4 linked regions of the Homo sapiens genome follow. The protein of the gene in region 3 purifies or fractionates together with the protein of the main gene of each other region. This does not show direct contact. Each region holds a gene or a part of one and is shown on either strand. Other genes may lie near its edges.

The links.
Region 1: the proteins of RAB39B (region 3) and WHAMM purify together in Homo sapiens (affinity purification with mass spectrometry; 2 studies listed by BioGRID and IntAct, with this or other methods). This does not show direct contact.
Region 2: the proteins of RAB39B (region 3) and HBS1L purify together in Homo sapiens (affinity purification with mass spectrometry; 2 studies listed by BioGRID and IntAct, with this or other methods). This does not show direct contact.
Region 4: the proteins of RAB39B (region 3) and CLEC16A purify together in Homo sapiens (co-immunoprecipitation; 3 studies listed by BioGRID and IntAct, with this or other methods). This does not show direct contact.

The regions. Positions count from the first base shown.
Region 1 is NC_000015.10:82,812,593-82,819,627, reverse strand, and holds part of WHAMM (WASP homolog-associated protein with actin, membranes and microtubules), read right to left. Parts: intron 6,526-7,035; coding exon 6,352-6,525; intron 2,937-6,351; coding exon 2,786-2,936; intron 2,750-2,785; exon of another isoform or gene 2,041-2,749; coding exon of another isoform or gene 1,926-2,040; intron 1,709-1,925; coding exon 1,539-1,708; intron 306-1,538; coding exon 140-305; intron 1-139. UniProt on the Homo sapiens protein: Acts as a nucleation-promoting factor (NPF) that stimulates Arp2/3-mediated actin polymerization both at the Golgi apparatus and along tubular membranes. Its activity in membrane tubulation requires F-actin and interaction with microtubules.
Region 2 is NC_000006.12:134,960,796-134,967,830, reverse strand, and holds part of HBS1L (HBS1-like protein), read left to right. Parts: intron 1-1,357; coding exon 1,358-1,502; exon of another isoform or gene 1,503-1,505; intron 1,506-2,540; coding exon 2,541-2,552; 3' UTR 2,553-7,035. UniProt on the Homo sapiens protein: GTPase component of the Pelota-HBS1L complex, a complex that recognizes stalled ribosomes and triggers the No-Go Decay (NGD) pathway.
Region 3 is NC_000023.11:155,261,484-155,269,100, reverse strand, and holds the start of RAB39B (ras-related protein Rab-39B), read left to right. Parts: upstream 1-4,609; 5' UTR 4,610-4,812; coding exon 4,813-5,027; intron 5,028-7,617. UniProt on the Homo sapiens protein: The small GTPases Rab are key regulators of intracellular membrane trafficking, from the formation of transport vesicles to their fusion with membranes.
Region 4 is NC_000016.10:11,178,536-11,182,693, forward strand, and holds the end of CLEC16A (protein CLEC16A), read left to right. Parts: coding exon 1-155; 3' UTR 156-3,651; downstream 3,652-4,158. UniProt on the Homo sapiens protein: Regulator of mitophagy through the upstream regulation of the RNF41/NRDP1-PRKN pathway. Mitophagy is a selective form of autophagy necessary for mitochondrial quality control.

The sequences.
Region 1 (7,035 bases), on a different chromosome or scaffold from region 3:
TTATTTGAATAATAAACCACTGAAGGAAAACTTTAGGAAATTTTCAGATGTTATAATTTACAAAAAGTAATTGATAATATGGTCTGTATTTCCTTAAATTTATAATTTAAACATTGCAATCTATATACTTAAATTTTACCTTTTATAAGTCTTTTAAGAGAGTCCAACTGTGTAGTAAGCAGTATTTCTTCGTTTTTTAATATCTCAAATTTAACTTCATATAGTTCTAATTGAATTTCATAAAATTGTATTTCTAATTCATCTACAACATTTGTATTTTTTTCTTGTTCTGGAAGATCTTCCATCTTATTTTCATAGAAAAAAGAAAAATAAGTTAAAATAAATTAGTATATTAAAAACAAACTTTAGAAGCATTCTAGCTATTTTCTATTCCTTGTTCAGTACTAAATATAACAAAGCAAATAGGAAAGAAACACTTTTTCATTTCATCTAGTGATGCAAATACTTTATCTCATCCTTGAAACAGAGGAAAACATTTAGGTTCTGAGAAACATAAATGGCAATGAGGTATTATTATGTACTGCATATTGGTGTCCCCCCAAAAATTCGTATGTTGACACTCTAACTCCCAGTGTGATGTTATTTGGAGGTGGGTCCTTTGGAAGTAATTAAGTTCAGATTATGTCAAAAGGATAGCACCCCCATCATGGGATTAGTGCCTTTATTAGAAGAGAAAGAGAGGGATCACTTTCTTTCTAAACATACACACAGAAGAAAGGCTATATGAGCACTCAGTTAAGAAGGCAGCTGTCTACCAGACAGGAAGAGGATCCTCACCGGACAGTGAATCTGCAGGCACCTTGATCTTGGACTTTCCAGCCTCCAGAACTGTGAGAAATACATGTCCGTTGTTTAAGCCACCCAATCTGTGATATTTAATCTTGTTATAGAAGCCTGAGCCAACTAAGACAGGTGTTTACAGTGTTTTCTGCTTTAAAGTCATAAGATTATAGGAAAAAATTTAAGTGACTATGCAGTGAAGTATCTCTTTGATTATTTTAAAGTTGTAGTGAAAACATTGCTGGGTTGATTTTCAAGTACAGTACCCATTTCAATACTGAGCTTGGTATTACTATAAAGTGAAACCTACAATATGGTATTTTGAAACATCTTAACCAAAGGAAAACTTTATGTCTAACCTTCCACAGAAGATGGTGTTGGAATAAGCGAAGAAAAGAAGCTCTTTAACGATGCCTGGAAAGAAAAGTGCTATCTAAAAATAAAAGTGTGCTTTACCACATGGTCTCACTTATAAGTGGGAGCTAAGTAATGTGTATACACAGTGTGGAATAATACACACTGGAGACTCAGAAGAGTAAGAGGGTGGGAGGGGGGATGAGAAATATTTAATAGGTACAATTACATTATACAGGTGATGATTACACTAAAAGCCCAAACTTCACCACTACACAATATATCCATGGAACAAAAACTGCACTTGTATCCTTTATTTATACAAAATGTTTTAAAAATAAAAGTGTATTTTTAAAACAAAGTTATGTTTATCTTTGTCTTACCTTTCCCTGAATTTCAGCTCTTTTGTGATTTAAACACAACTCTTTCGCTCTCATGAGTTGCAGAGTCTCTCGAGCTAGCATTAGCTGAAGTTTTTCCAACCTGGGAATTGCTGTGGCCCAGGCAGCCTGACCAAATCTCTTCGCATCCTGTTCCATTTCTTTCTGCATTCCTGTTGGATTATAAAAATAAAATATAATTACACCTCATTAAAAAGGGAAACATTTATCATGAGCTAATCCTTTTTTTATTGCCTCCATACTACCTGCAGAATATCCTTTTTAAAAGAAATTTTATTAACTTTTTTATTATGATAAAAATAATACATGTTCATTGATATAAAATTTTAGGTATTCCATTTTTAAAAAGACAGTAAGTCATGATCTCACCTAGTTGAGGCAACTGCTTCTTATATTTTGGCACACTTGCTTCCATATTGTTTCTATGTCTAGCTAGACAGACAGGCTCATATGGATAGTTTGACCACAAAACCAGGATCATCATTCTGCTTTCTATCTTGTTGATTCTGCACAATGTATCAGAAACTCTTGCCACTCATAAAAAAAAATCAAGAATCATGCTTAACAGCTACGTAGTTTTCTGTTTTATGAAGGTACCATAACTTAACAAACTGACAGACGTTAAGTTGTTTCCTACTTGGTGTTTTTATCAACAATTATTTAAGACTAAAAAAAAGTCCTTCACCCAGCCCACAAGCCCCTGCATGGTCTGACCCCTGCCTGTCTGGCCAGCATTTTCCCTCATACCACACTGTCCTGCACTCTCTGCGATCCAGCCCCGCAGGTTTTCTTTAAGCTCCTAATTTGCCAACTTCCCTCAAGGCAGGGGACTTTTGGCAGTGCTATTCCTTCTGCCCGGAATACTCCTCACTTTTTATTTTCTCTCAACTTCCATTTACCCTTCAGATATTGGGGCAAGCGCCACTTCTCAGAGGCCTTCAGTGACCACCACCCTGATCAAGCCCAATTTCTCTCTCACAGACCCTCAGAGCCCATGTCTCTCTTCTTTGTGCCATTTACTGTCACTGCCATTTTCCATGTGCTTCAATGAATAGATAATTAAGATTTCTCTCCCTTCACCAGACTGTACAACGTCTCTTAACGCTTGACACTGAATTCTCAGCACCTAGAAAACATAGTACCTAGTGCGTAAGAGGGACTCAAATGGTATTTGAATAAAATGATAATCAATTACATGTATCTTCATATAGCATTTTTTAAATTATCACCTGCTAATGCTTTTACTGTCTCCTTAAAATAATTCACTGTGATATCCTGAATAGAGACGACAGCTTCTTCAGCCCGTCTGGTCCATTCTTCAGCTTCTTTCTCCAGGGCAACTACCCTTCTAGGACCTAGGTCATCCTCATCCAAAGACTTCTACAGACAGAAGGGAAAATTTTCTTAGTAAGAGCTAATAGTTATGTAGAGCCATTAGGAAATTGAAAGGAAATTGGTCACATGGATTAATTTAACTACACTACTACTCAGTCAATTAAATTTTCATTCATTCAGCAGTCCCTTACTGCGTATGAATAAGGCTCTAAGCTGAGCACCACCTGTAAGACAAAAGGACACTCTGGGGCATAAAGCGAAAAAAAAACCCACTTTCACTTCACATGCCTAGAATAACTTTTTCTAGAGAGGAATGTTGTCAACTTATGCTTCTATTAATAATAATACACAATTGTTTAAATGAGTGATCTGTGTTGTCAAGCACTCAGCATAGGGCCTGGAACACAGCACTTAAGTATTAGCTGTTGTTACTGTTTCTTTTAGGGATATGTAATATAATCACCTAAAATATAGTATCTGTATATTCATGCTTATAACATGTACTGGTATTGGACTCCCCCCAAAATGCATATGTTGAAGCCTAAATCCCCAGTGTGATCATATTTGAAGATGGGGCCTTTGGGGGGTAATTAGGTCATGAGGGTGGAACCCTCAAGAATGGGATTAATGCCCTTATAAAAAGAAGAGGAGACACAGGATCTCTCTTTCTCTGCTCTTCACCATGCGAAGACACAGCAAGACAGTCATCTACAAATTAAGAAACTGGCCCTCACAAGACAATGGATCTGTGAGCACCTTGATCTCAGACTACCCAGCCTCCAGAACTGTGAAAAAAAAGTTTTGTTGTTTATAAGCCACTAATCTACGGTACTTTGTTATAACAGCCTGAACTAAGACGTGTACTGCTATGTCATCCAATATGCAATTTTTCTTCTACAAAGCCTAAGAAATATGTACAAGTTAGCCGACAAGGAATTACAAATCAAAACCATAACGAGATACCACTTCACACCCACTAGGATGGCTGTAACCAAAGAGACACACAGTAACAAGTGCTGGTGATAATGTGGACAAACCGGAACCCTCATTTACTGCTTTTGGGAATATAAAATATGCACCCACTTTGGAAAACTGTCTGGCAGTCTTTCAAAAGGTTAAACATTGAGTAATCACAGGACCCAGCAATCCTACTCCTTAGTACATACACAAGAGCAATGAAAACATATGTCTACACAGAAACTTACACACAAACATTCACAGAATTATTCATAATAGCCAAAAAGTGGAAACAACCCAAATGTCCATCAACTGATAAATAAAATGTAATATATCCATACAATGAATATTACTCAGCAATAAAAAGAAATGAAATCCTGATATTTGCTCCAACGTGGATTAGCCTTGAAAACATTGTGCTGAGTGAAAGGACCACATATTGAATAATGCTGTTGCTATGTCCAGAGTAGGGAAATCCACAGAGACAGAAAGTAGATTGGTGGTTGCCCAGGGTTGGGAGTGACTAAAGGGTACAGGGTTTCTTTTGGGGGTGAAAATGTCCTGAAATTACACAGTAATGATCACTGCACAACTTTGAATATACTAAAAATCACTGAATTGTACTATATATATATATATATATATATATATATATATATATATATATAAAATCTGTGAGTGATATCTTAAAACACCTTTTATGAAAAACAGGCCGGGTGCGGTGGCTCACGCCTGTAATCCCAGCACTCTGGGAGGCCGAGACGGGCGGATCACGAGGTCAGGAGATCAAGACCATCCTGGCTAACATGTTGAAACCCCATCTCTACTAAAAATACAAAAAAATTAGCCGGGCATGGTGGCGGGCACCTGTAGTCCCAGCTACTCGGGAGGCTTAGGCAGGAGAATGGCGTGAACCCAGGAGGCAGAGGTTGCAGTGAGCTGAGATTGCACCACTGCACTCCAGCCTGGGCGACAGAGCGAGACTCTGTCTCAAAAAAAAAAAAAAAAAAAAAGAAAGGAAAAATATAGGCTGGGTGTGGTGGCCCATGTCTGCAATCCCAGCACTTTGGGAGCCCAAGGCAGGCAGATCACCTGAGGTCGGGAGTTCGAGACCAGCCTGACCAACATGAAGAAACCCCGTCTCTACTAAAAAAATACAAAATTAGCTGGGCGTGGTGGCACATGCCTGTAATCCCAGCTACTCGGGAGGCTGAGGCAAGAGAATTGCTTGAATCCAGGAGGCAGAGGTTGCGATGAGCTGAGACTGCGCCACTGCACTCCAGCCTAGGTAACAAGAGCAAAACTCTATCTCAAAAAAAAAGAAGAAAGGAAAAATGTATGCAAGAAGTAGACTTTCCAAATAATAGACTTTCAAAATAATGAACAGAACAACTTTATCCACAGGTTAGAGTGGTATGACTCTCATCTAAATGTGATACTATTTTTATAATACAATCATCTGGCAAGGGTCATGAGATTATATGTGGAAAGATGGCCCGGTGCAGGGGGCAGAAACCAAGAGACATCTTAGGTGTCTTCTGATTTCTGTTGTTGAGACCCAAGGCAAGCTGTTTAACTCCTCTGGACTCTAGATTCATTTGTAACACTGGAATAAGCATGCCTTTTCTGAATGATGTCACAGGGTTGTCTGATGGCTCAATGAAGCAAGAGTGATAACAGCATTTACTAAAATTTAAGTTACTGAATTACAATCTAGGGTCCTGCTATTTAAATTTTCATCTTATTTTAAGAAATCTGCGTAAGTCCTTAGAGGAAAACAAGCTGAAGCAAATAAATATCACATCAAAAACAATTCATCAGGCTGGGTGCAGTGGCTCATGCTTGTAATCCCAGCACTTTGGGAGGCTGAGATGGGTAGCTCGCTTGAGGTCAGGAGTTCAAGACCAGCCTGGCCAACATGGTGAAACCCCGTCTCTACTAAAAATACAAAAAAAGTTAGCTGGGCGTGGTGGTACACACCTGTAATCCCAGCTACTCAGGATGCTGAGACAGAAGAGTCGCTTGAACCTGGAGGAGGTTGCAGTGAGCCAAGATCATGCCACTGCACTCCAGCCTGGCTGACAAAGGGAGACCCTGTCTCAAAAAAAAAAAAAAAAAAAAAAAAAAAAAAATTCATCACCAGAAAAAACATTTAACTCTTTCAAATCTGTAGGAATCTTAAGCTATTAAGATGACCAACGTAAATGTCTTCATTTTCTATCAATTTTAAATATAAACTCAATATGTACATATAAGGGTAAACTAGGCACATGTAATGCTGTGCTTTGGGAGGCCAAGGTGGACAGACTGCTTGAGCTCAGGAGTTCGAAACCAGCCTGAGCAACATGGCAAAACCTCATCTCTATCAATAAATAAGTAAATAAATAAACATAATGGTAAACCCAAACAAAGTACAAACAGAGATTGAACATTAAGTGTAAATAAAGAAATAATTTATGACAAATAGTAAATCTGATAAAGTAAAAATTTTAAAAAAACATACCAAAATATCAAGCTTACATAAAGTTGCAACTTCTCGCATAGCCCTAAATGGCTGCAATAAGTACTGGAAGAACATGGTTGCCACGGTAACCAATTCCTGGTATGCTTCATCTTCCTCTTGGTAAACGTTCATTAATGCTACCATGGTGTTGGCTTTTCCGTGTCCTTGAATAACCTAGAAAGCAAATGTGAATAAAGCTCAAGTCAGGACAGTATATTTAATACATACCCAACAAACAAAACTAAACAAAAGAAACCTTCATGTTCTCAACTTTTAATACATCAATTTTAAATACTGATTAAATATGAAAATGTTATCATCCTCCATCAAAAATGCCCAATAAAACAAGAATGGTTAAGAAAAGTATGATATATCCATGTAAGAATATTATTACTGTAGTCATTCAGCACTGTGCTTCTGAAGATTGTTTAATAATATGGAGACTTTTGTCCAGGCATGGTGGCTCACACCTGTAATCCCAGCTGCTGGGGAGGCTGAGGCAGAGAATCGCTTGAACCTGGGAGACAGTGGTTCCAGCCTGGGCAACAAGAAGGAAACTCCATTTCAAAAAAAAAGACACTTTTATAATATTAAATGGAGAGGCAGAGTGCAAAGTTTAATCTCAACTATGCACTAAGTATGCAGCGAAAGGGACCCAAAAGAAGGTTTGAGGTTGTGGATATT
Region 2 (7,035 bases), on a different chromosome or scaffold from region 3:
GTATATTCTTAGCAATCCTGTGAAGCATCTAGCAAGTGACACAAAGCTCAAGTGGTAGAGGCAGGATTCTAACCTAGTCAGTTGGTTTACATAAATTATATTCTTTTGTTCAGGAGCCAGGTTGTTTGACCTAGACAACTGATACAGAATTTTCAGTCTGAAATTGGCTCATCATATATAATCCTGAGTCTTCCCCTCCATGCTCCTGCTACAAAATCCTAGCTCAATGATGGTAGAGTTTAACATATTCTCGTGTTTGTGTTCCCTGTCATCTTATTTGTAGCTTTATCCTTTTATTTTGCACAACCGTTTGGCCTTTCCCTTTCATTCCTGTTCAGGCACGTTGTAGGCTCTTGATTGCTTTATGCAGAATGGAATTTAATGTTCTAGAAACTAAATTAGGAACAAGCCATTTATGTATTAGATGCTCTCCTTCCTAAGGAATGAACTTAAGCCTGAAATTGTCCAAAACCAATATTTGGAATTTTTGGTGTATTTTTTTAGAACCTTCTTTTAGTCGTCTGCCCCTGAACTTATCTTTCAAAAGGAGAGTTTATGATTTCTGTCCACTATACTTCTAGAGTACATAAAAATTAAATTAGAAAACAATTCCAAAATGTCCCTTTTTAGGTTCTGCCTCTCTCACTAAGTCTGAGCAGGGCCTAGCCTAGAGATTTTTGTTCACTTATTTTTATGAAATCATTTACAGTCTGGTCCATGCCCTGTCTTCCTTCATATTTTACAAGTATCATATTGTGGAAAAGCTACTTATGTGATTTTTGTCCTGAACTCCTGCTAAGGAACTATTATTCCTGTGTGGGGAAAGAGAGAGATTGCTTGATTGATTGAGGGGAATCTTAGCAACAACAGATTGATTGTCCTCTTCACAGATAACTTCCTAATACACATTCCATAAATTACAGTTTTACTAGGAAAGACATAGGGCATTATATTCCTCTTTGCAAATACTTTTTTATAGAAATAAGCCTTAGTATAACTTTCTTTATTAGATAATTGAACTCACTTTCTTGAGGGAATGAAAGAAAAAGCATTTATTTCATGATGAGGGGCCTTAAGCATTTTAGGCTATAGTGGTCCCGTAAGGGATAGAGTTATATTTGGAAGATTGGTAAAAATGAACTACCTAATGTTTCTTAAATCTAGAATTACTCCTCATTTCTTTCAACTAAAGCAGAAAGTCCAAAGACATATATTTTCATTCAAAAAATATTTTTCTTGTTTTTGAAAGACTCAGTTGATATGTTGGTTAAATGTGAAATATTTGTTTTTCAAGTTGTTATTATTACATTTATTCACCTCTATCATATATTCATTTGTTCTTTTTTTTTCTTAATAGGTTTTTGACTAAAGGCCAGAATGCATTGGTAGAGCTACAGACACAAAGACCAATAGCTCTTGAGCTATATAAAGACTTTAAAGAGCTGGGGAGGTTCATGCTACGTTACGGTGGTTCTACAATAGCTGCTGGTGTTGTCACTGAGGTATTTTATTTTAAAGTGACTCATTATATATCCATAGTTATGATGCCTTTTCTTTTTTACCTTTTAGGAATGAAAAGAAAGCATTGAGGGAATGAAAGAAAAAGCATTGATTAGGAGAAGCCTTACTCATTTTAGGTTGTAGTGGTCCTTTAAGGGATAGGGTTATATTTGGAAGATTGGTAAAATCTTCAGTGAGATTTTATGCCTTAAAGGAAACACAGTTATGCTACTAGAACAAGAAATTAGAATTTATATTAAATTCTAATTGCTGGAGAAAACAGCCAGAAATGAACCAGAAAATTTCAATGATTTAATTTCTTCTACACTATCATAATTAATATGAATCTTATGAATATTGTATTTTAAAGGGTACTTCATTACTCCACATGATTGTTTTCTGCCTAAAACTAGTTTATTTAATTGGATATAACATAAACTTTAAGTTGCATCAAAAGTGAGTTACACATATCATGAAAAATCTTTCTTTTAAGTTGCTAAAGCACCAAGAAACTCTATATACATAATTTAAGTAAAATACATATGGAAGGCGGTGTGGGGTGGAGGTGAAGAAAACAGCTTTCAGAGTTACACTGCCCATTTGTGTTCTTGCTCCACCAGTTTTTAGCGGCATAAATGCATTTCTCCTTCAATTTACCTCCTTCAGTGTAAAAATAGGATAATAGAATCTACCTCCTAGAGTTGTGTTGAAATGAAATGATAACGTGCAAAGCACTCAGCACATAAAAAGCATCCAATATTGGTAGCTGATATCGTTGCCATCAATATCACATTTAATCTATCAAGGCATTCTTTCTAAAAGAGCATTCTAAAAATAAGATAGAGTCATTTGTGGAGAATAATGGAGAGATTATAGTAAATTGCAGAAATGGCATGACTAGGAAAGGAAGAAAGTTGCAGGACAAAGAAAAAGATTTTCTCTTGATATAATAATTCTTTCACCATAATTTTCCCTTTGTTGTTCTTATAATGTGATTGATTAAATTACAGCAAATGTCTTTTTTTTTTTTGTTTTAACAGATAAAAGAATGATGGGTCAGAATTTCTACCACGTTTCTGGATACAGTGAAATAGCTAACCTCTGTTTCAAGAATGCAGTTATTAAGTCAAAGGAACAATGTGCAATTGATATGTTTTTAGATGAGAGAGAAAAATTAAAGCTAAAATTAGCTGCAAAGAAGTATTAATAATCACCTCTGCAAAAATTCTAAGTTGCCAACTGGCAAAGAAAGTCTAATGTTAAAAACAACTTTGCCTTTGAAACGTTAATAAATGGATTTACTTTGCTAAGATTTATGGCAAGTGTCAAAAATAGTATCTGAAGATACTGAATCATCATGAAATGAACTCTACTTCTGGCCAAAGCACAATGTATTTGCAGTTTTCTCTTTTGATTCAATTATACTGCACATGTTTTAAGGAAAAGTAACTTAATTGGGTTTTTCAGGCAGTTGATATTTGACCTAAGCTTTTTTTTTTTTTTTTTTTCCAGTTAATGCTAAGAAAAGATTTGGGGAAGGTTATAATAAAAGTATTTTGTGGTGACCATAAGAATGTCCCTCCCCAAACAAGTAAACTTGTGAAAGTTTAATTTGGAATTAGTGGAAGCTGTTCCTTTGAAAGCCAAGATATTATTTAAGTTGTAAAGCCAGCTAATAAAATGCCTTAGTTTGAGCATAATACAAACTGTGTTTTGTTCTTTAGACATTTATGAGATTCTCTGCCACTAACAGTAAATATGATTTAGGGGTTTTGTGGGATCTTTTTCACCTAAGAGTTTCCTAGCTCTGTCACATGAATTCTTTTTTATCCTAATGGCAGATCCAATTTCATCTCATTCATTTTTTTAACCATAACTTGCTTTTCCCATTCTCACTTTTAGAATTATACCTATGATGGCCCTTTCTTTATCTTGCTTACCTTATAGATTATAAGTCCCCTGTGAGTAAGTAAGAGTCATGTTTTTCTTTAAAGTTTCAACAACAAACCCCAAGGTTTATTTATTTAACAACAGGTATTCGTTGAGGTGCCTTCTGGGTGCAAGGAGCTTTAGAGTAGATTTTGACCTCAGCTGAACCTGGAACTCTGATCTGATAGACTGTTTATGATAAGCTTTTTTTTTTATTAGCAGCGTGATTTGTATATCGATGGCTTAACATATACAACAGCATTTCTTCTCCCTGCACCTTTTCGTGAACCTGACATTTTGAACATAAGCAATAACATCTGTATGGTAAAGTAGGCAGATTATACATGTGTTGCTTAGTGAATGATTACCAAGTGAACACACTTGGTATATTGCTTTACCAAAATACATGTGTAGTTGTCACTTCAGATTCACTGAGTTAAGAAAGTTTTATTTAAATATTAATATTAATCAAGAATTTAACAGATATATGTGACAGAAATCTAACTTCAAGTGACTGAAGCAGAAAGAAAAATTTTTGAATGACATAACTGAGAAAATTAGAGGTAGCTCTAGCTTTGATTCCATTTAGATCGAGCAGCTCACACAATGTTAGCAAGGACTCATCTCCACTCTGCCTTCCCTGGTGCTGGTTTTGCTCTCAAACTCTATATAGAACTCTCGGCCGGGCGCGGTGGCTCACACCTGTAATCAAAACACTTTGGGAGGCTGAGTCGGGAGGATAGCGTGAGCCCAGGAGTTTGAGACCAGCTAAGGCAATATAGTGAGACCATGTCTCTACAGAAAAAATTTAAAAACAGATCAGCTGGGTGTGGTGCCACATGCCTGTAGTCCCAGCTTCTCAGGAGGCTGGGGTGGGAAGATCACTTGAGCCCAGGAGGTCGAGGCTGCAGTGAGCCATGATCACATCACTGCAGTCCAGCCTGGGTGACAGAGCAAGACCTGTCACCCTGCCACCCATAAAAAACCTCTTCTGTAATGCCAGGTTCTTGACAAGATGTGATAATTCCACACTTACATCCTCAGATCTCCCATCCAGGGCAAGGACAGACTAAAAGAGCATATCTTCTCCAGAAGTCCTAGAAACATCTCATCATTGACTATGATTGAATTTTATTTATTAATACTTCCCTAGGATATCCTGTGTTTGAGTGTGAAGTTAATATCACACAAAGCATGTAGCTAACAGTTGTGTGAGGGTTGGAAATTCAGGGTGCTGTTAGGAAGGGGAAATGGATTGGGGTTTAAGGTAGGGGGAGTAAAAACAAGAAACCATCCACTCTGTATATTATATAAGACTGTGATCGAATTAAGAATTTTAGTTTACAGTTTAGCATAAACAAATAGTAGTAGAAATGAATGCATTTATTCATTCCTTCCTTCTCCAATAGTGTTTAAGTACAATCTTTTTATTTGCATTTTATTGATGATTGATTGTGGTTGAAAGGAGTGGTGATATTATTTCGAGGATCCACTGTGTAAGAAGACTGTTGGCAGTGGAAGGCTCGAGTTGATTAAGTGACAAAGAGGTAAAGCAGACATGCCCAAGCTTGGTTATGCTCTGATTTCCTACCCTGTTACTTTCATCCATAATTTATAGTACATCCATTTTGTGTCATTTTGCTTCAGGTATTTCTTGTCCTGACTGTCTTCTTTTTTATGATTTTACTGTTTCTTCACACTAATGGCTTTGTCCTCTGACTTTGACTCTTTGTGAGATTCTTCTGAGCAGTTAACCTCTAGGATAATGTGGCTTGAACACATTACAGAACTATGTTTTGACTTGTTAGTATTATTCACACATTCATGACAATTGAGCCTCTCTACTGTGAGAAATGTTTTAGAGGCCAGTTTCTAGGCATAGCTGTTTTTCTCCCATGAGTATGCAAATCAATAGTTTTAACCATTGTTAAAATGCAATCATAGTGACTTCAGAAAATTTGGAAAATACAGAAAATATAGGGAAGAATAAAATTAACCCACAGTTCTGTCACCTAAAGGTAACTGCTGCCAATGTTTTCATGTATTTCTTTTCTGTCTCTCCAATGCATTTTTTTACATAGTTGTGAGCGTTAGCCAAGTTATTTTCATGTTGTTATGTAATCAATATTTTTCAATAGAAGTATTAGAGGTTTTTTTTATTGATATAAAAATAACAATTACAGATCCTGATATATAGAAGTTATTCAAAATTATACAGTTTTCAAAAAATCAAGACAAGTAGGCCCAATACAAACTACTGAATCATCTTCTAATTTCCCTCTAAAATATTTATAGAAATATGTAAGTAGAAAAACATTCATCCTTTCCTCGTCTAATTATGATCCTGCCATATTCCAGGCACAAGAGAAAGCTCTGGGGCTTGAGTCTTAATAGGGCTGATAGTCCAACCAGGGGACAGGGTATCATAAAGAGATAATTCAAAACTTTAAGATTGGAGGGTAGGTGATGGTAGAAAATTCTGCGGCAAACATTTGTTGATGCTCATCATTTGTTGATGTCATCAAAGATCACCAGGGCATAATTATAATCAAAATTAGTTTTATTGATGCTTGCTGCAGCAAGAGAGACTGCACACCACTGGGGTCTATGGGTGCTTCTCAGTGGGAAGGTGTAAGGAGGGGCTTGCTAAGAATTTGAGCACATGTAGCTAATTTTAAGGAGGGCTCAAGTGAGCAAGGGTTTCTTCTGGATTGAGTGCTGTCAGAAAGTGGATTGAGTGCTGTCAGAAAGTGGGAGTGATTTTGCAACTGGGTATCTTAATTTTTATGTTGTGGGTGGGAGGAAAGGAAAGAAGCAACAGTCACCCATGTTAGCCACAAGAAGAGGTTGGCTGTTTATGGTTTGCACAGTGACTTTGTTTTTATCTGTGCTCAGGCATGATTACAGTATCTCATTTTATCCGGATTACAGTGACCTCATCTGATGTTAGAGATTTGAGAATTGTTAAATGTTCAGCAGGAGAACGCCACCGCCTAGTGTGAATGCTAGGTCAGAAGCTGCTTTTTCACACTGAAACCATTTAAGTATGTACAAATAAGTTAATAGTGTAAATGTAGGTGTAAAATACAATGCAAAACAAAATAATGAAGTAAGTGAATTAAATTATTGCACCAAATATGGGGATATGAAATAGGGAAAGAAAAGCATTAAGTTACTTATAGTCCATAAAGGGACTACATTATTTTGTTACTCTGATAATCCCATAAAACAAAGTTTTAAGAATGTTTACAGTAACCATGAATGGAATTAGTGAAACTATTCATATCAATGCAAAAAAAAAAAAAAAAAAAGCAAAGAAACTAAGTCTGTACAGCAAAAGATGGAAAGGAAACAAGAAAATTAAATGAAGACAAAGGTTGTGATTATTACAGTAAATGAAAATAGGTTTTTATCTTTAAAATGTAGACTCAAACTGCAAAGCTAATGATATGCTATCTGCAAAATATTCCTATTTTGTAAATAAATAAAACCATAGATTTAAAGAAGAAAGGGCACAGATGTACTGGGGAGACAAAAATAACTGATCCGTTGGGTGTATACCATGTGCCAAGCAATTTTCATATACTCATTTAACATGACATATCT
Region 3 (7,617 bases):
CAGATAAAGCAATGCTCAGAGGGAAATGTATAGCTATAAGTGCCTGTATTAAGAAAAAAAATCTCAAATCAATAACTTAACCTTCCAACTTAAGAAACTGGAAAAAGATGAGCTAACTAAAAGAAAATCAAGCAAAAGGAAGAAAATAATAAAGATTAGGGCAGAGATAAATGAAACAAAGGGAATAGATTAACAATAGAATCAATGAAACCAAAAGTTGGTTCTTTGAAAAGAACAACAAAATTGCCAAACTCTTTTTTGGTTCCATATGGAATTTAAAGTAGTTTTTTCCAATTCTGTGAAGAAAGTCAATGGTAGCTTGACTGGTCATTAGAGAAATGCAAATCAAAACCACAATGAGATAACATCTCACGCCAGTTAGAATGGCAATCATTAAAAAGTCAGGAAACAGTGGCACGTGCCTGTAATCCCAGCTACTCGGGAGGCTGAGGGAGGATAACTGCTTGAGCCCAGGAGATGGAGGTTGCAGTGAGCTGAGATCATGCCACTGCACTGGAGCCTGGCCCACAGAGCGAGACTCTGTCTCAAAAAAAAAAAAAAAGGAAACAACAGATGCTAGAGAGGATGTGGAGAAATAGGAACACTTTTACACTGTTGGTGGGAGTGTAAATTAGTTCAAGCATTGTGGAAGACAGTGTGGTGATTCCTCAAGGATCTTGAACCAGAAATACCATTTGACCCAGCAATCCTATTACTGGGTGTATACCCAAAGGATCATAAATCATTATACTATAAAGACACATGCACACATATGTTTATTGCAGCACTGTTCACAATAGCAAAGACTTGGAACCAACCCAAATGCCCATCAGTGACAGACTGTGTAAAGAAAATGTGGTACATATACACCATGGAATACTATGCAGCCATAAAGAAGGATGAGTGCATGTCCTTTGCAGAGACATGAATGAAGCTGGAAACCATCATTCTCAGCAAACTAACAGAAGAACAGAAAACCAAACACCACATGTTCTGACTCATAAGTGGGAGTTGAACAATGAGAACACATGGACACAGGGAGGGGAACATCACACACCGGGGCCTGTTGGGGGGTGGAGGGGTAGGGGAGGGATAGCATTAGAAAAAATACCTAATGTAGGTGACAGGTTGATGGGTGCAGCACATCACCATGGCGCGTGTATACCTATGCAACAAACCTGCATGTTCGGCACATGTATCCCAGAACTTACTATTTAAAATAAATAAATAAATAAATAAAAACTATTAGGACTAATAAGCAAGTTCAGCAAGGTTGGAGGATATAAAATCAATATGCAAAAATTAATTCCATTTTATAAACTTGCAAGGAGCAATCTAAAAATGAAATTAAGAAAACAATTCCATTCACAATAGCATCATAAATAACAAAATACTTGAAGTACAAAACTTATACACTGAACACTATGAAACATTGTTAAAACAAGTTTTAAAAACCTAAATAAATGGAATGATATCCATCTTGTGCTCATGGATTGAAAGACTTAATTTTAATAAGACAGCAACACTCTCCAAATTGATCTACAGAGTCAAATCAATACCTATTAGCATTCCAACTGCCTTATTTGCAGAAACTGATAAGCTGTTCTTAAAATTCATATGAAATTGCAAAGGGCTCCAAATAACCAAAACAATCTTTGAAAAGATTGGATCCTCCACAGTAGGAGGACTCACACTTTCTGATTTCAGAACTTTCTACAAAGCTACAACAGTCAAGAGAGTGTCATACCAGCATAAGGGCAGACATATAGACCAATGTGTATTGACCATTTCATTTCCTCTTCTGGGAATTGTCTCTTTATATACTTTGTATTTTTTATGTGTAATCTTTTATCATTGCCTTACTGTTTTAAAACAAATCAGCTTTATTAACATAGAAATAGAAAGTCCAAAAATACATCCATACATCCATGGTCAATTGATTTTCCAGAGTGTCAAAATCATTCCATAGAGAAAGAATAGTATCCTCAATAGAGTGCTGGGATAGCTGGATATCCACATGCAAAGGAATGAATTTGAACCCCTTCCTCACACCATGCATAAAAACGAACACAAAATGGATCATAGACCTAAATGAATGAACTACAACTATAAAACTCTTAGAAGAAAGAATGAGTAAACCTTCATGACCTTGGATTGGGCAAAGTATTCTTAGACATGACACCAGAAGCATGAGCAACAAAATAGAAACTCGATAAATTGTACTTCTTAAAAATCTAACTTTGTTTTTCAAAGGACACCCTCAAGAAAGTGAAAAAAAAGAACACACTGAATTGGAGAAAATATTTGCAAATCATATATGTGATAAAGGACTTGTGTCTAGCATATATAAAGAACTCTTATAACTCAATAATACAAAGACTAGTAATCCAGTTTAAAAATGGGCAAAAGATCTAAGTCAATATTTTTCCAAGGAAGATACACAAATGGCCAATAAGAATGTAAAAATATGCTTGAAGTCATCAGTCGTTAGGGAAATGCAAATCAAACTAGAATAAAGTACCACTTCACATCCATGTTAGAGAGAATGTGGAGAAATTGGAACCCCATAGGCTGCCAGTGGGATGTAATATGGTACAGCCACTGTGAAAAAGTCAGGCATTTCATCAAAGGGTTAAACATAGAGTTGCCACAGGACTGAGGAATTCCGTTCTTAGGTATAAATCCCAAAAAACTGAAAACAGATATTAAAAAAAAAAACCTGGCACATGAATATTCGATGGTAGGATTATTTAGAATAGCCAAAAGGTGGGAACAACCCAAATGTCCCTCAATGAATGAATGGATAAACAAGATATGGTCTATCCATATGATGGAATAGTATTCAGCCACAAAAAGGAATGAAGTACTGATACTTGCTACAGTGTGAATGAACCTTGAAAACATTATGCTAAGTGAAAGCAGCCAGTCACAAAAATGCACATATTATATGATTTCATGTATATGAAATGTTCAGAATAGGGAAATTTATAGAGACAGAAAGTACATTAATGGTTGCCAAAGGCTGGAGGAACATGGGATAGAGAGATGATAGCTAAAAGGTTCTGGGTTCCTTTTTTTAAAAAATATATATACATATTTTATTATACTTTTAGTTCTAGGGTACCTGTGCAGAACGTGCAGGTTTGTTACATATGTATACGTGTGCCATGTTGGTGTGCTGCACCCATTAACTCGTCATTTACATTTACATTAGGTAAATGTAATCCCTCCTAATGCTATCCCTCCCCCCTCCCCCCACCCCTCTGGGTTACTTTTTGAAGTGATAAAAATGTTATAAAATTAACTGTGGTGATAGTTGTATATATCTGTGAGTATATTAAAAACCTATGCTAAGAATTGTTCACTTTAAATGGGTGAATTGTACAGTATGTGAATTTTCATGTTAATGAAGCTGATTTTTTTTAAAGAGTAAGGCAACGATAAAAGATTACACATAGAAGGCCGGGCGCGGTGGCTCACGCCTGTAATCCCAGCACTTTGGGAGGCCGAGGCGGGCAGATCACAAGGTCAGGAGATCGAGACCATCCTGGCTAATACAGTGTAACCTTATCTCTACTAAAAATACAAAAAATTAGCCGGGCGTGGTGGCGGGCACCTGTAGTCCCACCTACTCGGGAGGCTGAGGCAGGAGAATGGCATGAACCCGGGAGGTAGAGGTTGCAGTGGGCCGAGATCGCGCCACTGCACTCCAGCCTGGGCGACAGAGAGAGACTCTGTCTCAAAAAAAAAATAAAATAAAATTACACATAAAAAATACAAAGGATATGAAGAGACAATTCCCAGAAGAGGAAATGAAATGGTCAATACACAAGACTTGGTATTGACCTCATCAGTAGTCAGAGAAATGTAAAAATAAAGCAATGAGACATATTTTTATTTAACTAAATTCTATTGAGAAGAATTAAGAAAGAATAAAACATACATATGATGCTTGAAATAATGCAGAGCGATGGTCTTTTCACACATTGCTGGGTAGAATTTAAACTGTTAAATAGTTTTGGAAAGTAGAATGCCCATGTCCGTTAAATTTAAAATACTTATACTCTTTGAATTCATGGCCCCTTTTTTAAGACTGTAGCTCACAGAAATAAAATACTTGTGGCTACACTTTAAAATAAGTTATGACAAAAGGGAAATTAGGTGGAAATGGAAAGATATTTATGTTGCTTTATTAATTGCAAAAAGCAATTATTAATTGAAAGTAAGGCCCCAGTTTAATTTTTGTAAAAACAAACAGCAATAAATGCATATAGGAATACAAACACATATAATATTTGTGTGTTTATGTGAGCATGGAAACACTTGTAGACTAATATATAATTATGTGCCTTCCCTTTTTTGTGCAGTTTTGTATTGCTTTGCTAGTTTCAATGAAAAGGTATGACATTGGCAGTTTGAACGACAGAGAACAGTTTTAATGAACAGAGGGTGGGTGGGGTAGTTAGAAAGGGAGGGATCGCGCTAATGTTGCAGCCATTTTGTGTGCGCTCCTCTTACAGATAGTGCGGCGGCCCAGGCGTCGCGTCTACGCGGGGGATTACAGTAACCCGGTTGTCAGTGATGAGTCAGAGTGCGTGGTGCTGATGCTGCTGCCATTTCATCACCTTTGCGAGCGCAGCATCCATCCCTCCGCTCTCCCGGCGCCTGGGCCTACCCAGCTTCGGGCTCCCAGGCCAGCGATGCGCTCGCGGCTGAGCTAGATCCTGCCGAGCCGCGCTCTCTGAGGCGTCGGCGGGGCGCCCCCTCCCGCCGTCCCCGGTCCGGGCCAAGGAGACCTGCAGAGCCGCGGCCATGGAGGCCATCTGGCTGTACCAGTTCCGGCTCATTGTCATCGGGGATTCCACAGTGGGCAAGTCCTGCCTGATCCGCCGCTTCACCGAGGGTCGCTTTGCCCAGGTTTCTGACCCCACCGTGGGGGTGGATTTTTTCTCCCGCTTGGTGGAGATCGAGCCAGGAAAACGCATCAAGCTCCAGATCTGGGATACCGCGGGTCAAGAGAGGTTCAGGTGGGAGCGCAGTCCGGGCCCGCAAGCAGTGGGAGGGTCTTCGGGGTTTGCACCGCCTCTGGGGAGAGAGGACTTCCTGGTTCTAGGTGCGGTCCAGGAGGGCAACACCAAGGGTCTTGAGGATTCTGCCGAAGCCCACCTTCGGCTAACCCGGAGTTTAGTGCAAGGAAAGAAGCGCCCTGGCAGGGAAGGCCGGTCAATAACACATATTGCTTGCACCACAACTCCACCAACCTGCCCTTTGGTGGCTAACAAACTAGCTGGAATTGATCTCTGTATCTGTAATTCATCAATCTCAGTCCCTATGTTACATACTTTCAAAAACGTTCCCAGGTCATCCTAACATAACTGACAGAGATTTAAATACATAAATACATGTGTATTATGTTTTATTTCCACATCTGTGTGTGTGCACATATATATGCTAACATATGTTCTAACATGAAATAGATACGATTGATTCCTTCTTGCAACCAGCACACATTCAGTGATCATCTACTATGTGCCAGACTCTGGGCTTGTTCCTGGGAAAACAGTGTGAGGAGACTCACACAAGGGGATGCCATGTAATCTAAACAGACAAAGCCCCTTCATTCTTGGAACTTCTGTGCTAACATAGTTGAGGGAAATAGATAATCAGCAATTACGAAAGTGTGTCTTGCTCATATTTGTATGCCCACTCCCTACTGTAACACTTGGCACAAAATGAACATGCTTAATTTCAATCAATGAATTCATTGAATAATCAATGAATATGTTTACTTTCACTCAGAACCCTTTGCTTTTCTATTGTAGCATGTATTATTTGTAATTATATGTATGAACACAGAGGAGGAAAGGTTAACTGGAGAAGATGAGACCGGATGAGTATGACTGCCTAAGCAAAGACAGGAAACGCCCAGGGATAGGAAACAGCATGAATAAAGACAGAAGTGAGAGGGAGCAGAGTGTACACAGAAAACTTTGCAGAGAACAATTTGAACTAAAGTAGAGCAGCAGGAACCAGATCAAGAAAACTCAATAGCCCAAGTTTATGATCATTTACTCATTTATCTATTGAAAACTAACTAAGCATAGAAGATACTGGTTGGGTAATTGAAGAGGGGTAAGGAGAAGAAATAATTACAAACTTAAGTTACCTCCAGCTCCCCACTTCCACAAACACCACTGTGGAAAATATCCTTGTACAGGTTCACTTTGAACTTGCGATTGCATTTCTCCTAAGCAAAGAAAGGTATCTTTTATGTGTTTGTTGGAATTTCTTTCTATATGAACAGCCTGTTCATATCCACTGCTTATTTATTTATTGGGCAATATGGACTTGTAAGAGTACTTTATAGATTAAGAATATTAACCCTTTCCTGTCATGTATGTTGTAAGATATATTCCTAGTTTATCATCTGTCTTTTCACATTATTTAAGATTTTTTAATGTAGGGAAGAATTTAAGGTTTATGTAGCCTTATGTCCATGCTTAGAAGGCCTTTGTCACTTTCTTTGCTAAGTACTCACAAACAATTAATGTAATAATATATTCCAGAGTTTTGACAGTGATCTACAGCTTGCTTGTTGATTTCTTGAATCAACCTTCTCACAAATCAAAACCTTTGTTTGTTCATGTCTAAATTTTCTGGTAAATCTACCATTCTCCATGAATCTTCAAACCTAAGAGACGAGAAATGCTTTCAGTCCCCAGGGCTGATTTGCCTGATTTTGGAGACTTAAAGTCATTTGTAAGTTTTACTTTTACCATCATCTAGCTTGGACTGTAGGTCCCTGGACAATGCTTGTTCTGCTAACATTGAGCCATTTTCTCTAAGCTATTGAGTCCTTCGTTGTCTATCTTCTTTATCTGAGGAGACAGAAAACCTAAAAATAGACATAGGTAAAAAAAATCACAGTAGTCTAAAGCAAGTGACTGCAGAGACAAATAGGTCCATACCCTGTAATAAGCTTTAATACACTGTAAGCAAAGTGCCATAATGTATATTTATAATGAGGTTCCTCAAGTCAAGAAGTTAAAACATGTGAAGTTTCTTCTGATGGCTCCTGAGTTGAGTTGGCCTCTCTGAAATGTGTCAGGAAACAGGGCTGAGAGGCACTTTGCCTGAACCCTTCGCCATCTCTCTTTTTCCCATTCCCACAGGCCTTGAAAATAAAAAATAAAATTGTGTTTCTCCTCACAGAAGAGATTGAGGATCCCTGTTAGCTAATAATAATAATAATAATAATAATAAACAATAATAATAATGGAAAGAGAAAAAAACATGGTAATGATAAATGGAAAAAATGGAGTAGCAAGATACCTACTTTAAATATTTTGTTAACTATCATAAATTCATTTCTATGTTTTAAAAATCCTGTTTCAACTGCTAGCATTTGTAATGAACTCTCCACGTCACAGAACACTTTAATATCCATTGTTTCATTTTGCCTCATGGTAACACTGTGACTTGGGTATCCTATTTTGCAGAAAAGGAAGTCTCTGTCAGTTATTCAGATTTGGGGGGTGGGAGAGTTAGTTGTAGTTTTACCTGAAGGCAAGAAATAGAACTCAGTTATGTCCCAGGGTCACTCTCCAGTGCTGAATC
Region 4 (4,158 bases), on a different chromosome or scaffold from region 3:
GCGTCGAATCGCTGACCCTTGTCCCCCCAGTTGACCCCCACAGCCTCCGCAGCCTCACCGGCATGCCCCCGCTGTCCACGCCGGCTGCCGCCTGCACAGAGCCCGTGGGCGAAGAGGCTGCATGTGCTGAGCCTGTGGGCACCGCTGAGGACTGAGTCAGTGCCGGGGCCTCCCTTTGTGTGTGTGGCCCCGCTGGTAGGGACCCCAGTGCCGCTGACTGGCAAGACACACTGGGAGCACCCACCATTCTGTGCGGCCCCCAGCAGCCATCTCAACCACCTATCCCTGCGCTCCCTTGAATGGGAAGAAGCCCCACGTTGTCCTTGAATTCCTTTTTCACTTTGCATCTCTTCACGTGCAGGCTGGGACCAGCGGAGACACCGCGGCGAATGCAGATGACTGCACCGGCCACTCAGGGAGCTGCCTGGGCTCCGTGTCTCTGAGCCCCGGGTGGCAGGACCCACCGGCACCTCTTTCTTCCTCTGTCATATGGCTCCTCTGTCACCAGCCCCAGTGTGCACAGAAGAATTGGACCAGGTCACTGTACGTAGAAATTTGTAGAAAAGCAGACTTAGATAAACATCTCCTTTGGATATTTATTTCCGCTTTTGGCAGCAGGTGAACATTTATTTTTAAAACTTCTATTTAAAAGAAGTCCAAAAACATCAACACTAAGGTTTGATGTCATGTGAAAAGTGTAATAATAACAGTTAAGATTTCATGATCATTTTCACTGGACCTTTCCTGATATTTTGTTTCAGAGTTCTTAGTGTGGCTTTTTCCATTTATTTAAGTGATTCTTTGTTACTCACTAACTCTGCAAGCCTGTGGAATAATGAAGTACCTTCCTGGAAAGTTTGGATTATTTTTTAAACAAAAACAAGGGAGATACATGTATTCTCAGGTACACACAGAGCTGAGAGGGCTGAATGGTTTTCTGCTATAGCAGCCGAGAGGCCTCCCATCATGGAAAGATTTCTCCAGGAAAAGGAGGAATGTAGCCAGCTCCCCACTCAGGACGCTTCCTCATTTCTCTTCACCAAAACCAAACAGAGACAGCTTCCAGCACCTTCTTCAGTGTTACCATCTCTAAGAAGGAACCAGTTGGGACCGTGAAGACTCCCGACCCTGTGGCCATGATGGAAATCAAAGGAAGACACCCTCTACGTCACCTGCCCTCGACTGTGTGTGCCCACATGTGCCGAGAGATGGCCCAGAGCCAGTTCCCCTCCAGCTGCAAGGGCATGGTGTCCCCAGAGCTCTGAGTCTGTCACTCTCCCTCTGCTACTGCTGCTGATCTGAATATGGAAACCCCATGGTTCCCTTCCCCATTCGGACTGGGTGTGTACAAGCAAGGACCCAGATGCATCAGACACAGCCCCCAAGATGTTCCTTTCTACTCGGCCAGCTCGGGAGCCAGACACAGCACTCACAGCCCAGGCCGTGATCCACCCTCCCCAAGTCCACCAGGGCCAGCGGCCCCTCACCTCTCTGGTCACTGGTGAGACCTTCCACAACTTTCCTCCAGACCTGCCAGCAGATGTGCCCACCAGGGGCATTAGGTATCCGCCGGAGCCTGGCCATAGGGTAGTCTCGGGAGCCGCGCTGAGATCTTTTGCCACCTGCATTTTAGAAGAACATGGTCTCTGTCTCCTCGGCCCAGCCAGCTGTCCCGGCAAGGCCTGCCGAGGGCAGTTTTCAACCTCATGAAGGAAACACAGTCCTGCCAAGGAGGGGGAGTGGCGCCCATGGGGACAGGCCTCAGTCCTTAGAAGCCCTCTGGGTAGCTGTGCCCACCCAGCCTTCATGGCTGCAGGTACAAGGACCTTTGCTTCCATAGAGAAAACGCACAGCTCAGAAAGGGGGCCACATGGGCAGAAACCCAAAGGAAGGACAAACCACGACCACCGTGGCCATCTGCAGAATCCCTGGAAGAGAAGGAAGGCAGGGTGGAGCGGGGGGAAGACCATCATGGAGAGAAGGACCACAGCATCAGGAGACGGGACACGCCACACCCAGCAGGCAGCCTGTGTGTTGCTTAATTTTTTAAGAGCAAGAGGGGTAGAGAGGATCAAGCTGGCCCTGGCTGGAGATGGCTAGCCCCTGAGACATGCACTTCTGGTTTTGAAATGACTCTGTCTGTGGGGCAGCAGAAACTAGAGAAGGCAAGTGGCTGCCCCACCCCAAGGCGTGACCAGGAGGAACAGCCTGCAGCTCACTCCATGCCACACGGGTGGGCCACCAGCCTGCTGTCAGAAGTCTCTGGGCTCCAACTGGTCTTGTAACCACTGAGCACTGAAGGAGAGAGGTCTTGGTCAGGGCTGGACAGCATGCCCGGGAGGACCAGCAGAGGATTAAAGGTGACTGGGAGGACCAGCGGAGGATAAAAGACACTGCTCAGGGCAGGGCTTCTACCCTGCATCCCTGGCCAAGAAAAGGGCAGTCCCCATGTGGGCTTGCAGGGTCACTCTCAGGGGCCTCTTTCAGCTGGGGCTGGCAACTTGCGTCTGGGGGACACCTCCAGGTGTGTGGGGTGAGGATTTCCTATAACCAGGGCTCCCAGAAGCTTTGCTTATGTAAGGAGGTCTGGGAGCCAGCCCATTGGAGGCCACCAGCCATTTTGGCTTCAAAGGACCCCACCTCACCCAGGTCTCAGCGGCAGTGGGCACAGCTATGTCTTCAGGAGCTCCCGTCAAACCTCATAGCTGGGGCGCTCCCAGACAGGCCAGTCCAGACAGGACACGCTGGGCCCCTGGCATCCAGAGGAAGAGCCAGGAGTGTGGGAAGGCCCACAGTGGGGGCTGTGGCTTCTGACACTCAGGTCATAGCCTCAGAGGTCTGAGGTCAGCCCCCACAGACCCATCCGGCCCGCCCCCCAAGTCCCTGCAGAGAGCACTTAGAGTTATGGCCCAGGCCCTGGTCCACCCTTCCCCTGTGCACCTCCGGCTGGGTTTGCCAAGTCAGGGAGCAGGGCTGGCCGCAGGAACTCCCAAACCTTGGCTTTGAATATTGTTGTGGAGGTGTGCTCGTCCCTTTCTGGACGTGCAAGGTACCTGTCCCAGCAGGTCAGATGGGGCCAGCTGAGGCGCTCCCCCAGGCAGGAAGGGCCAGCCTTCACCATCGCGTGGGATTGGGAGGAGGGGCCTCCGTGAGCAGCCCCTCCTCTGCCGCTGTCCCAGCCCAGTCCCTCTCCCGGAGCCTTGGCAGCCTCCCACAACCCAGACACTTGCGTTCACAAGCAACCTAAGGGGCAGGTGAAGAAGCGCAGCCCTGCCAGACGCGCTAGATTCCTCTAAGGTCTCTGAGATGCACCGTTTTTTAAAAAGGCGTGGGGTGAACTGATTTTGATCTTCTTGTCTAGATGCAATAAATAAATCTGAAGCATTTAATGTAGTCATCTTGACATTGGGCCTACACTGTACGAGTTCCTTATGTTTCCTTGAGCTAAAAATATGTAAATAATTTTTGTCCCAGTGAGAACCGAGGGTTAGAAAACCTCGATGCCTCTGAGCCTCGGGACCGCTCTAGGGAAGTACCTGCTTTCGCCAGCATGACTCATGCTTCGTGGGTACTGAACACGAGGGTGGAAATGAAAACTGGAACTTCCTTGTAAATTTAAACTTGGCAATAAAAGAGAAAAAAAGTTACCAAGAATGTAGCGTGCTGCTCCTGGGGGCTGTGGCAGGAGGCCGTGGCCTGGCACAGGGGAAGGTTCCCAGCCAATGACCCCTCATCCCGGCGCAGCTGCTTGGCAGGGGTGTGGTGGCTGGAGCCCCTCCCTCTCCCTCCTCCCCGCACCAGGTTCCCTCCCATCCCCAGGTTCCTAAGAGGTTGTCGGGGCTCATACAACCCGGGAATAACTGCTAAGGGGCAGTTGGCACCATCAGGAAATGTCCCCGCCCTACCCCTGCCGGGTACAGGGAGCGTGGTCCACATTCTGCATCTTTTCCCTGTTGGGCAGGTGGCTGCCCATCCAAGCCTCAGGCTCTGCATCTGTGGATTTGGACAGCCAAGCCCTACCTCGCAGGACAAGCGTAGCGAGCAGCGTCATTGTTGCCAGGCTGGGCCGAGGGAAGCAGGAAGGCTCCCCACCGAGGACAGAGGTGAAGTGCGGGGGTGGACATGACTCGGAAACACCAACGTCCACCAGCGTGAAAC